3 linked regions of the Homo sapiens genome follow. The protein of the gene in region 2 purifies or fractionates together with the protein of the main gene of each other region. This does not show direct contact. Each region holds a gene or a part of one and is shown on either strand. Other genes may lie near its edges. The genes, in order: ARMC8, TLE4 and PPM1B.

Evidence for each region.
Region 1: the proteins of TLE4 (region 2) and ARMC8 purify together in Homo sapiens (affinity purification with mass spectrometry; 2 studies listed by BioGRID and IntAct, with this or other methods). This does not show direct contact.
Region 3: the proteins of TLE4 (region 2) and PPM1B purify together in Homo sapiens (affinity purification with western blotting; one study listed by BioGRID). This does not show direct contact.

The regions. Positions count from the first base shown.
Region 1 is NC_000003.12:138,242,737-138,246,395, reverse strand, and holds part of ARMC8 (armadillo repeat-containing protein 8), read right to left. Parts: intron 1,309-3,659; coding exon 1,213-1,308; coding exon of another isoform or gene 1,147-1,212; exon of another isoform or gene 1-1,146. UniProt on the Homo sapiens protein: Component of the CTLH E3 ubiquitin-protein ligase complex that selectively accepts ubiquitin from UBE2H and mediates ubiquitination and subsequent proteasomal degradation of the transcription factor HBP1.
Region 2 is NC_000009.12:79,724,617-79,727,484, forward strand, and holds the end of TLE4 (transducin-like enhancer protein 4), read left to right. Parts: intron 1-420; coding exon 421-528; 3' UTR 529-2,266; downstream 2,267-2,868. UniProt on the Homo sapiens protein: Transcriptional corepressor that binds to a number of transcription factors. Inhibits the transcriptional activation mediated by PAX5, and by CTNNB1 and TCF family members in Wnt signaling.
Region 3 is NC_000002.12:44,227,746-44,231,504, reverse strand, and holds the end of PPM1B (protein phosphatase 1B), read right to left. Parts: intron 1,513-3,759; coding exon of another isoform or gene 1,504-1,512; exon of another isoform or gene 1,093-1,503; coding exon 787-1,092; 3' UTR 33-786; downstream 1-32.

The sequences.
Region 1 (3,659 bases), on a different chromosome or scaffold from region 2:
TGTTTGCTTTGAAATAACAGTTTATAAGTGAAAACTTAGATGTACCAAAAATGATTTTCATAGGGATACACTAAAAACACTTCAAGTCAAAGTATCTTGTTAACTGAAATAAAGTGAGGTACATGGAAACATTCAATTTATTAGTTGTGCTTTTTGCATTGATTTTAAATCAAAGCTACTCACACATCAAATCTTATTGCTATTACTTCAGTTTCTTCAAGAAATGGTTCCTTTTCAAGTTATTTCAACAAATGTAAGGTTGTTCCATACTCCTCTTTCTACAGGCCTGAAGAACTTCTCTGAATCATGGTAAACTCTAATACTTTGTGATTTCTCTCACAGTGCTCCTTAAAATACTAATGCAGATGGAGAGATTTAGTAAATCATCATGTTCAGTAAATAATGACTAATTTGCTCTTTCTGCTATGGCTCCTCAAGACAGAACATGTGGTTTTGCTCTCTGATGGTCTTGAAAGCCTTGTGTAGAATTTATTAGGTTATACATGTTTTTGAGTGGTAAGTTCCAGCTTTTTGGTTTGTGGAAGGAGCCAAGTCAGAGCTTACTTACCACTATACTCCTCATCTAGAAGTATTCTCATCAAGAACATGAGTTCAGTGTTAGACTAGGCTTTAGTAACATAAGGGTGCTATACCAGTGCATACATTTTCTGGGGAGCTGGAAAATTCAGATGACCACTCACTAAACATAAAATCATCATTCCACAAAGATTTTATTCACATTAAACTTGCACAGTAGCAAAAAAAATCAAAACATAAAACTAAGCCACATATCAAAGAACAATATACAATAGAGATTTGAATTTCTCAATAGCATTGGAAGGTATTTCCATAAATAACATTTACAATTCTAATGTTAGGACTTTCAAGGTGTCTGAAGCTTCACAGTGCTAGAATTGATTTTTATCAGAACACATGCAAAAATGTGCAACATAATAATTCATATTAATGACACAAAAAAAAAGCACGCCAGTTATTTGTCATTCCAGCACGGCCATGCCACTCTATGTTCTAAAAACAAACAAACAACCCCCCAAATCCGGGTCCCATTCATTCTTCAATTATGCCTTTAGTCACTCTGCTTTATTATATTCAAACAGTCACTGTTAGTGCTCTTCACCACGACTTTCAGGTTGACGTCACTCCCTGCCTGCTGGCTGTCAGGACTGGGGGACGCCCCTCTCCCAGACTCACCTTCTTCCGGATGTCTTCATCATTTGCTCCAAGAGAGGCATAGAGCTTGAATGCAGCCTGGCGGAGTTCGTGAGCATGTTTTAAATCATGATCAAGCTATGGGGAAAAAAAGGATATGTTCCAACTCAGTCCATAAATTCAACTTTCAATAACATTAACTGAGTTGAAGAAAAAAAAAGTTTACAACTTTTAGATTTTAGTGAATTTCCCAGTCATTAACTACATTTCCCAGTTATTTTTGGATTCTGTTCACATAGCACTGAGACTTTGCAGTGTTCGTATCAATGTGACCTAAAATGCACACAATATGCTTCCATTTAAAAGTGAACACTATATTTGACACTGATATATGAAAAACCATTGTGAATCTCTGACTCCGAAAAATTCAGTGTTCCTAAATGGTAGCTTTACTGGCACTAATGCTTGCTTGCAGCAGCTCTTTGAAATGTTCTCCTTCAAAAGAAGGCACACCTGGACTTCTCTAGCCCCAGACTACAGCTGATAACCTGAATGAAATCGCAACAATGTCTTTAGGAGGGTTCCCTTAATTTTCTGAAACATTAAGAGTAGTGCTGGCCTAATTTTGGCATTTAAAAAGCTTTTAGAGGCCGGGCGCGGTGGCTCACGCCTGTAATCCCAGCACTTTGGGAGGCCGAGGCAGATGGATCATGAGGTCAGGAGATCTAGACCATCCTGGCTAACACGATAAAACCCTGTCTCTACTAAAAATACAAAAAAATGAGCTGGGCGTGGTGGCAGGCGCCTGTAGTCCCAGCTACTTGGGAGGCTGAGGCGGGAGAATGGTGTGAACCCAGGAGGCAGAGGTTGTAGTGAGCCGAGATCGCGCCACTGCACTCTAGCCTGGGCAACAGAGCGAGACTACATCTCAAAAATAAATAAATAAATAAAAATAAATAAAATAAAAAGCTTTTAGAAACAGAGAACCCATTGTGAAAATGCTTAACAAACCGTATACTATGGTAACCATTATTATCTATTACAGTTATCTGAGATTTATGTTGGGTATGGGTTTTTTCAAGAACATTATCAAAATTATCAGCATGAAGCAATTAATGGTATCTTTAAACATGCATAACTAATTATCAACTCTTCTATAAACTTGATCACCAAACTACTGTAAAGATAAAACAGAAGCATATTTTCAGGATACTTTCAATGACTGACTATGACCAAGTAACTATACAAAGTCTACCAATAATATAAATAACCTCGTAACTAAAAGCCTTAATGTAATCATCCAAATGAATACCACTTTTCCCAAAGAAGTTACTTTGGAAAGGTTCACTCATCCAATGATGTAGGTGTTGTTCATAACATTCTGAGACCCTCTTTTGAAACTTCCTAAAGAGCTAACTGGTATTATTAGCTAGAAAACACTGACAGTGGTATAGCTTGATCAATGATGAGACTTTTAGTTGTCACTGACTGTGTGTGAAGATGGAGAAATTCAGTTGGGTAATATAACGTAGGTAACAAAAAATTCCACAGAAAGCAAAAGACAATATATATATTTTACATATATATATAATTTGGGGTGGCTCTGAAGGCAATTCTTAATAGTTCCAAAACTTCTGTTCAAAGCAGACACTGATGGATTATAGGAAGAACTTCCCAATACAGAATACTCACTTTGATAAGTTCTAAAAGTATCTACTCTTAAAGTCTTAACTACATTCTAGTCATAAATTAAGATATAATACTGACTTGAACTAACATATCATGAAAATCACAAATTTATTAACATGTGAAGATTTCTCTTTACGGGTCTAGTGTCTATACTTTTCGGGTCAGAAACCTTTGGATAATCCATCATCAAAAATAAAGATGACAAAACAAACTATTACTCAAGTTTGGTATTACGATGTCATTTTTAAGGATTATTGTTGTTACAGTTTTACTCTGATGGAAATGAAATGGAAAAACTAACAGAAGGGATAATCTACGTACTAGTTAAATGATTTGCATATGCATAGGCTACATGTTCTTAAAATTGTTTCCTTACTCTCATGGCCATCAAAACATTTTATTTGCCTTCCTGGGGTGGTCAACTCAGGGCGTTCATGAGGCAGTAGCTAAGGGTTGCTCATGTATCTTTGTATTGGTAAGATACAGTGTCAGTGTGAAAAAATGACCAGAAGGAAAACAGACAAGGCAACTGGTTAAATGTATGTAACCCATCACTTCTACTGGAAAAACACCACTACTGAAAGAAGAGCAGACACATAAGTTTAATACCCAGAGAGTAGAGTACATTACTAATACAAATACCAGTGAAGGTTATTTTAGGCCCTTCTTAAGACAGAGTAAAGATATACCCTTAATAGTTTGCTTTATTTTCAAAGTTAAAAGCCAAATGAACAACTGCCTACCAAATGAGGTTTTTTGAAACTCAAAAGCATGAGGGAGAGGTCAAAAGGAGAATAGTT
Region 2 (2,868 bases):
GAGGATCTCTTGAGCCCAGGAGTTCGAGACCAGCCTGGGCAACTTAGTGAGACCCTCTCTCTACAAAAAAAGTTTGAAAATTAGGTGTGATTGGACACATCAGTGTCGTAGTCCCAGCATCTCAGGAGACTGAGGTGGAAGGATTGCTTGAGCTCAGAAGGTCGAGGCTACAGTGAGCCATGGTCACACCACTGCACTGCAGCCTGAGTGACTGAGGGAGACCCTGTCTTATTAAAAAAAAAAAAAAAAAAAAAAAAAAAAAAAAGCAGCAGTACTGTCCATGACCACCTTTCACCTTTCCTTGACTGGGCTTTCTGTTTGGTCAAGGAGCACATTACATTTGCATTTGCTCTAAGTCCTCCATACTCATGGGATTTTCTTTCAGTATTTAACATTTTTGATTATATGTTTCTTTCCTAGTCCAAAGAATCCTCATCGGTGCTTAGCTGTGACATCTCCGTGGACGACAAATACATTGTCACTGGCTCTGGGGATAAGAAGGCCACAGTTTATGAAGTTATTTATTAAAGACAAATCTTCATGCAGACTGGACTTCTCCTCCTGGTAGCACTTTGCTCTGTCATCCTTTTTGTTCACCCCCATCCCCGCATCTAAAACCAAGGATTTCAGATACTCATTGCAGTTGTGGAGTTTAATCCCCTTTCTTAACCTCACTTCCCACTTGCTATTGAATTGTGAATAGTCATTAAAAACCTGTGATACCAAATCTTCAGCTGTCTACTTGGAAGAACATGGAATAAGCATACTTAACAGTGAAAAGAATCTTTAATTATGTATTATATCTGTAATATATTTATTTTGTTTAAAGAAGGCTTTCTAACAATGACTGACTAAATAAAGCTGTCTGCTCCTGCATTGATAATGAAGGTGCGTTGTATTTGATACCCCTCCCCCCCTTTTTTTGGCAAAGGAGGGGAAAGGAAGGTTTAAAATAATTGATTTAAAATGTCACTAAGTGTAGACTGATGACTGTATAGAGATGTGAAATGTATAATTACACATGGAAGCAATATGTTGCTGTGTTGTTATTAGGTTTTTTTTGTTTTTGTTTTCTACATCTTTTAAAGACTTTTGGAAATTTGGCTGAACAATTAGAACACAACAGGCCAACTCATACTCATTTGGATCTATTTAGACAACGTTAACCAATATATCTATAGCTTTAGATTATATTCGATAAAAGTAATTGGACTTTTTTTCTTTTTTTGACTCGTTGACAAGTGTCTTTGTAATATGTTTTTAGTTCCCTTTTTTTGTTGTATTATAGGCAGATGAACAAATTAAATTTGGCCTCAAAGAGAGAACTTACTCCCTTCTGGATATTTTTGCCACATTTCTTTGCAAAAGGAGATATATATATCTTTAGTCAGTTTTGTTGTTATGAGAAATTATGGGTTATTTTGTGGCATGCTCTTTGGGAGCTGCACAGTTATGGGGAGGACTCCCACTGCTGTGCAAGTTAAGTCTTTTACAAAACAAGGACAGCAGAGGAGGGTTTGCAGAGACCTCCCTCTGAAAAACACAAAGAATGGACTCTCTCCTGGGATGAGGACTTGCTTTCTTTACCTCCGGTTCTTTCCATGTCTTAGTTGGATGTCCCTGAAATGGACACAGGCTGTGCCATTGTGCCAGAAACATTGTGTTATCTTTTATGTTGTTGTTGTTGCTGTTAAACTATAATATGTGACTTCTTTTTTTATTATTTTTTGTTTGAATGCTTTAAAAATCTTTTAAGTCTGTGGATCTGCTGATGTACAGTGCCTTTGCTGCTATGGATCAAAATCAAAAGAACCGTGTAGATATACTTTATTGTATAAGTAGAAAATTACTTAATTTCATACTAGAAATGGATGGATGCTGCAAGTTGAAATGGACTGTCCATTGACGTTCCTAATGTGGTAGCAGAAAAAAAAAAATGGTGTCTTAAGTGCTTAGTGTTTGATGTCATTAACAGTTTCGTAAAACTCTACAGTGTAGAAAGATTTTGATACTAAACTGTGCGTTGTACATAGTTCTAATGCATTGTATTGACCACCAGTACTTCTATAATGGTAGATTGTTTGTGAATTCAGACTTTTAAGCATTAAACATAAATAACTTCTAGTATGCTTATTTTTCTAATTCTTTGTCTTGATGACATTAGTTTATTTTTTATCTTTGGCTGTGCCACTCCTATATATTAAAAATGCCTAGTTTTTTCAAGGGAGATTGTTGTTAAAGTAAAGTGGTTTTTTTTGTTGTTAAAGTAATGTGGGTTTTTTTCACTGTTGCTGTTTTTGTTTTGGTTTTGTCTTTACTTGAGAGGAGCTAGAAAAGGTAGGTGATAGAAGTTAACAGTGACCAGTTGGTGCTAAATATTTATTGAGTACCTCTTTGATTTATAAAAATACTGCTTACCAAAAGGTTATCATGTCCCTCAAACCCTTGATGCTTTAGAGCTATGCTGTTCAATATGGTTACCCTAGGCATTTGTGGCTCTTTAAATTTATTAAAGTTAAATAAAACTAGAAATCTAATTTACCAGTCACACAAACTACATTTCAAGTGTCAAGTAGCCACATGTGGCTAATGGCTACCGTATTGGACTAGACACATCAACACGGGCTTTAAGTTAGCCAATGTAAACCATTGCCAGCCATGTGGATTTGGGAAGCATTTCTAGCATAACACACTGAGGTCTTTACACCAGGCTTCTTGGGCTGCTACTGGTTGGGTGTATGAAGATTCAGTATAAAGAGGAGTTTAAATTAAGAATTCTAAAGTGCTGGGACTCAAAAATCCGACATTTTAAGGTTCTACTAAGTAGGAGGATTGGAAGCCCCACAGTAGTCTGGAGGGATCATCTAT
Region 3 (3,759 bases), on a different chromosome or scaffold from region 2:
AAAAATTAATTCAAAAATAAGTACAACATGCATAGATTATTCCACATCACATGCTTTATTTGGACTTAAACACTTATAATTTCATTCTAAACACTTGGTTGACATACATTTTGATGTGTGTAGTTAGGCTATACAGAATATACAAACCAAAGCTGTATGAATAATACATAGGTTTTTCAAAAGTTATGTTTCATAAAGAATACAGAGAAAGGAAAAATAGCCACACATCCAATATCTCACAACTTCTAAAAATAAAACTACAGAGATGTAAAATATAAACAAATCAAACAACACACAAATTATCATCCTTGAAAGAAAAATTACAGGCCAGCATCAGCCATTCTTTGAAGAACTAAAATTATTAAAGAAAACATAAATTTATTACAAAGCTAACTATGAGTGTACTAATAGGTAAAATAATATGAAGCAGTATAATTCTACATTAACAAGTTTTTCCATAATATAGCATAATCTCTCTAATCAAAATTTCTAATTCTATCTAGTATTAATTTAACTACTGACTTTAATTCATAATTGGTAGCCTAATTTCTGGCATACAATGTGAAATGACATATAATTTCATTAAATCCATAGTACTATAAATAGTCAATTTTACACTATCTCATAAAGGTGTATGCAAAGGCCTTTTTAAAAAACAAGGCTATCTGAATATAATAAAACTAGTTTTCCAAGATTCAAATAACAAAACAGTTATATAAATGCATACATTACACTTCCTAGGTTAAAAACCATCAAAGATCACAAAAATATTACCAAAAAGGAAAGTCATATTTTTTCACCACTCATCTTTGTCCCTGCATCTTCATTAGAGCTGTCTAATTCAGCAAGACCACTTTCTGATTCAGTATGGCTTTCCTGCATTGTCACTGGGTTTCCAGCATCACTGTTCGAAGAAGTAGCTGTGGCAGCTGGTTCAGCAGGGCTTTCTTCTCCCTCTACTTTAGCTAGCCTGTAACTAGTCAGCATCTCCTCCAGAAGTTGTCGGTAGTTTCCCCTATGATTAATTCTCATTTGCCTGAGAGCTTCCACCAATTTTCCCTGTGATCCACTTTCCTCTGCTTCATCGGAGGCCTTTTTTTAAGATTCAAGACCCCAGTGTCAGTAGACAAACTAGGATATCACATGTATTTCATAACACATTACAGCAAAATACTAATTTCTCTACCGAAAAGTAATATAGTCTAAGCATGAGAACATTTTATTAAATATCAATTCTTACCTGTATCAATTAATAAAAACTTCCAATAATAATCTCAAGTCATTTTAAGCAAATTACCATTAACTAGTTTATGTCTTATTTCACAGTCATTTAAAGTTTAATCTGAAATTTACTCAGCTTTTATAATTCAACAGCAACACAAGCATTTCCTAAAACTGACTTACTTAAACAATATTTGGCTATATGATTTAGTACAAAAGAAAATCAATGTTTAAAGCAGTAGGAAAAGGACAGAAAAGCAGGCCATCAGAACAGTTTCTTCATCATTTCTGCTAAATAAGTAGGAAATACAAAACATAAAACTATATAGATTTAAACAGATTTTTGAAAGATTTTAGAGTTTTTACGGATAAAAATTGTATTTACTTTTTGCTCTTATTTTGATAAAAACATCTCTAGATAAAAATAAATTAAGTATTCTCAGTATGAATAATAAACTACTCAATCCTTTCATATTTTAGTGAATTTTGGAAAATCTACAGGTTTCTACAATAGTAACTACTTAATACTGTACAGAACAAGCTCTAATCATCCAAGCTGATCACAGTTAAGCCGACAGACTAAAATAAAGATATCTTTACAGTATGTGCCTCTTGATATGATGCATTATAAAGTACAGTCATGTCCTGTATTCGTGCCAAAAAATGTTTAGAATGAATCTAATAATGCTAATTCCCAGTTTACAGGAAAAAAGGGAATAGAGGATCAAGTTAGAGCACACATGAGAAAACAATCATATGAATTCAGAATGCAGGACGTATTGTAAAAAACTGGCTCAGATTCTTCAAAGTCAGTTTCAAGGGGAAAAAAACAGGTGAGGGGCTTGACTGATTAAAGACTTGTTTAATGTGCTTGATTGATAAACTTGATTAGACTGGGATTCAAAATAACAATTACAATAGTCACTCTAGTGACAACTAGGGAAATTTAAACTTGATATTCAATATTATACAATTTATTTTTTTATACACCTACAGTGTACCCACAAAAATTAAAAATAAATTTAAAAAAATGAATTTTCTTAGGTATAATAATGGTATTATGGTTATACAGAAAAATGTCTTCGTTCTTTTTTTTTTTTTGGGATGGAGTTTCACTCTTGTTGCCCAGGCTGGAGGGCAATGGCATGTTCTCGGCTCACCACAACCTCCACCTCGAGGATTTAAGCGATTCTCCTGCCTCAGCCTCCCGAGTAGCTGGGATTACAGGCATGTGACACCATGCCCGGCTAATTTTGTATTTTTAGTAGAGACAGGGTTTCTCCATGTTGGTCAGGCTGGTCTCGAACTCCCAACCTCAGGTGATCTGCCTGCATCGGCCTCCCAAAGTGCTGGGATTACAGGTGTGAGCTACCGTGCCTGGCTGAAAAATATCTTCATTCTTAAGAGCTGCATGCTTAAATGTTTACAGGTAAAATATGATGTCTGCAATTTTCTCTCAAAGGGTTCAGTCAAAGAAAGAAAAAAAACAGTAGATATAAAAAGAAAAATAAAGCAACTATGGCAAAATGTTAACAGTTGTTGAATCTAGAGAGACAATATACAGCTGTTCCAACATATCATATCCCCTTTTTAAATACATTTGGAAGTTTTCATCTTAAAATATTGGGAAAATAAAATACAAAATAGGTTATTGATACAGTTGATGTGACACAAACTCTTAACCATCTTTAGAGACTATTACATATACTTTTGCAACAAAGATAACACTAATAAAGCCATATAATAAATGGCAATGTTTTATTAGAAAAATGAGAGCAGATGAATGTTATTTTTTAAAAAGTTGCCCTCATTGGCCAGGAGCAGTGACTCGTGTATGCAATTTCACCACTTTGGGAGACGGGTAGGAGGATTCCTTGAGGTCAGGAGTTCTAGGCCAGCCTGGGAAACACAATGAGACCCTATCTCTACAAAAAATGTTTAAAAGGAACACGCCCATAGTCCCAACTACTTGGGGAACTGAGGCGAGAGGTTGAGCTAAGTCGAGGAGGTTGAGGCTTCAGTGACCCATGACCATACCAATGAACACCAGTCTGAACGACAGAGTGAGACCCTCTTAAAAAAAAAAAAAAAAAAAAGGGCTTGTTAGGCTGAGGCGGGTGGATCACGAGGTCAGGAATTCAAGACCAGCCTGGCCAAGATGGTGAAACCCTATCTCTACTAAAAATACAAAAAATTAGCAGCACGCAGTGGCAAGTGCCTGCAATCCCAGCTACTCCGGGAGGCTGAGGCAGGAGAATCGCTTGAACTCGGAGGGCGGAGGTTGCAGTGACCCGAGATCGCACCACTGCACTCCAGCCTGGGTGACAAAGTGAGACTCTATCTCAAAAAAAAAAAAAAAAAGAAAAGAAAAAGAAAAAAAAAGTGCTTGTTTTCCTGCCTCAGACGGGGTGGTGGTGGGGATGGGGCGGGGAAGTATCCTCATGGCAAAAAATGGATGATACTGGGCCGGGCACAGTAGCTCATGCCTGTAATCGCAGCACTTTGGGAGGCTGAGATGGGTGGATCACCTGAGGTCAG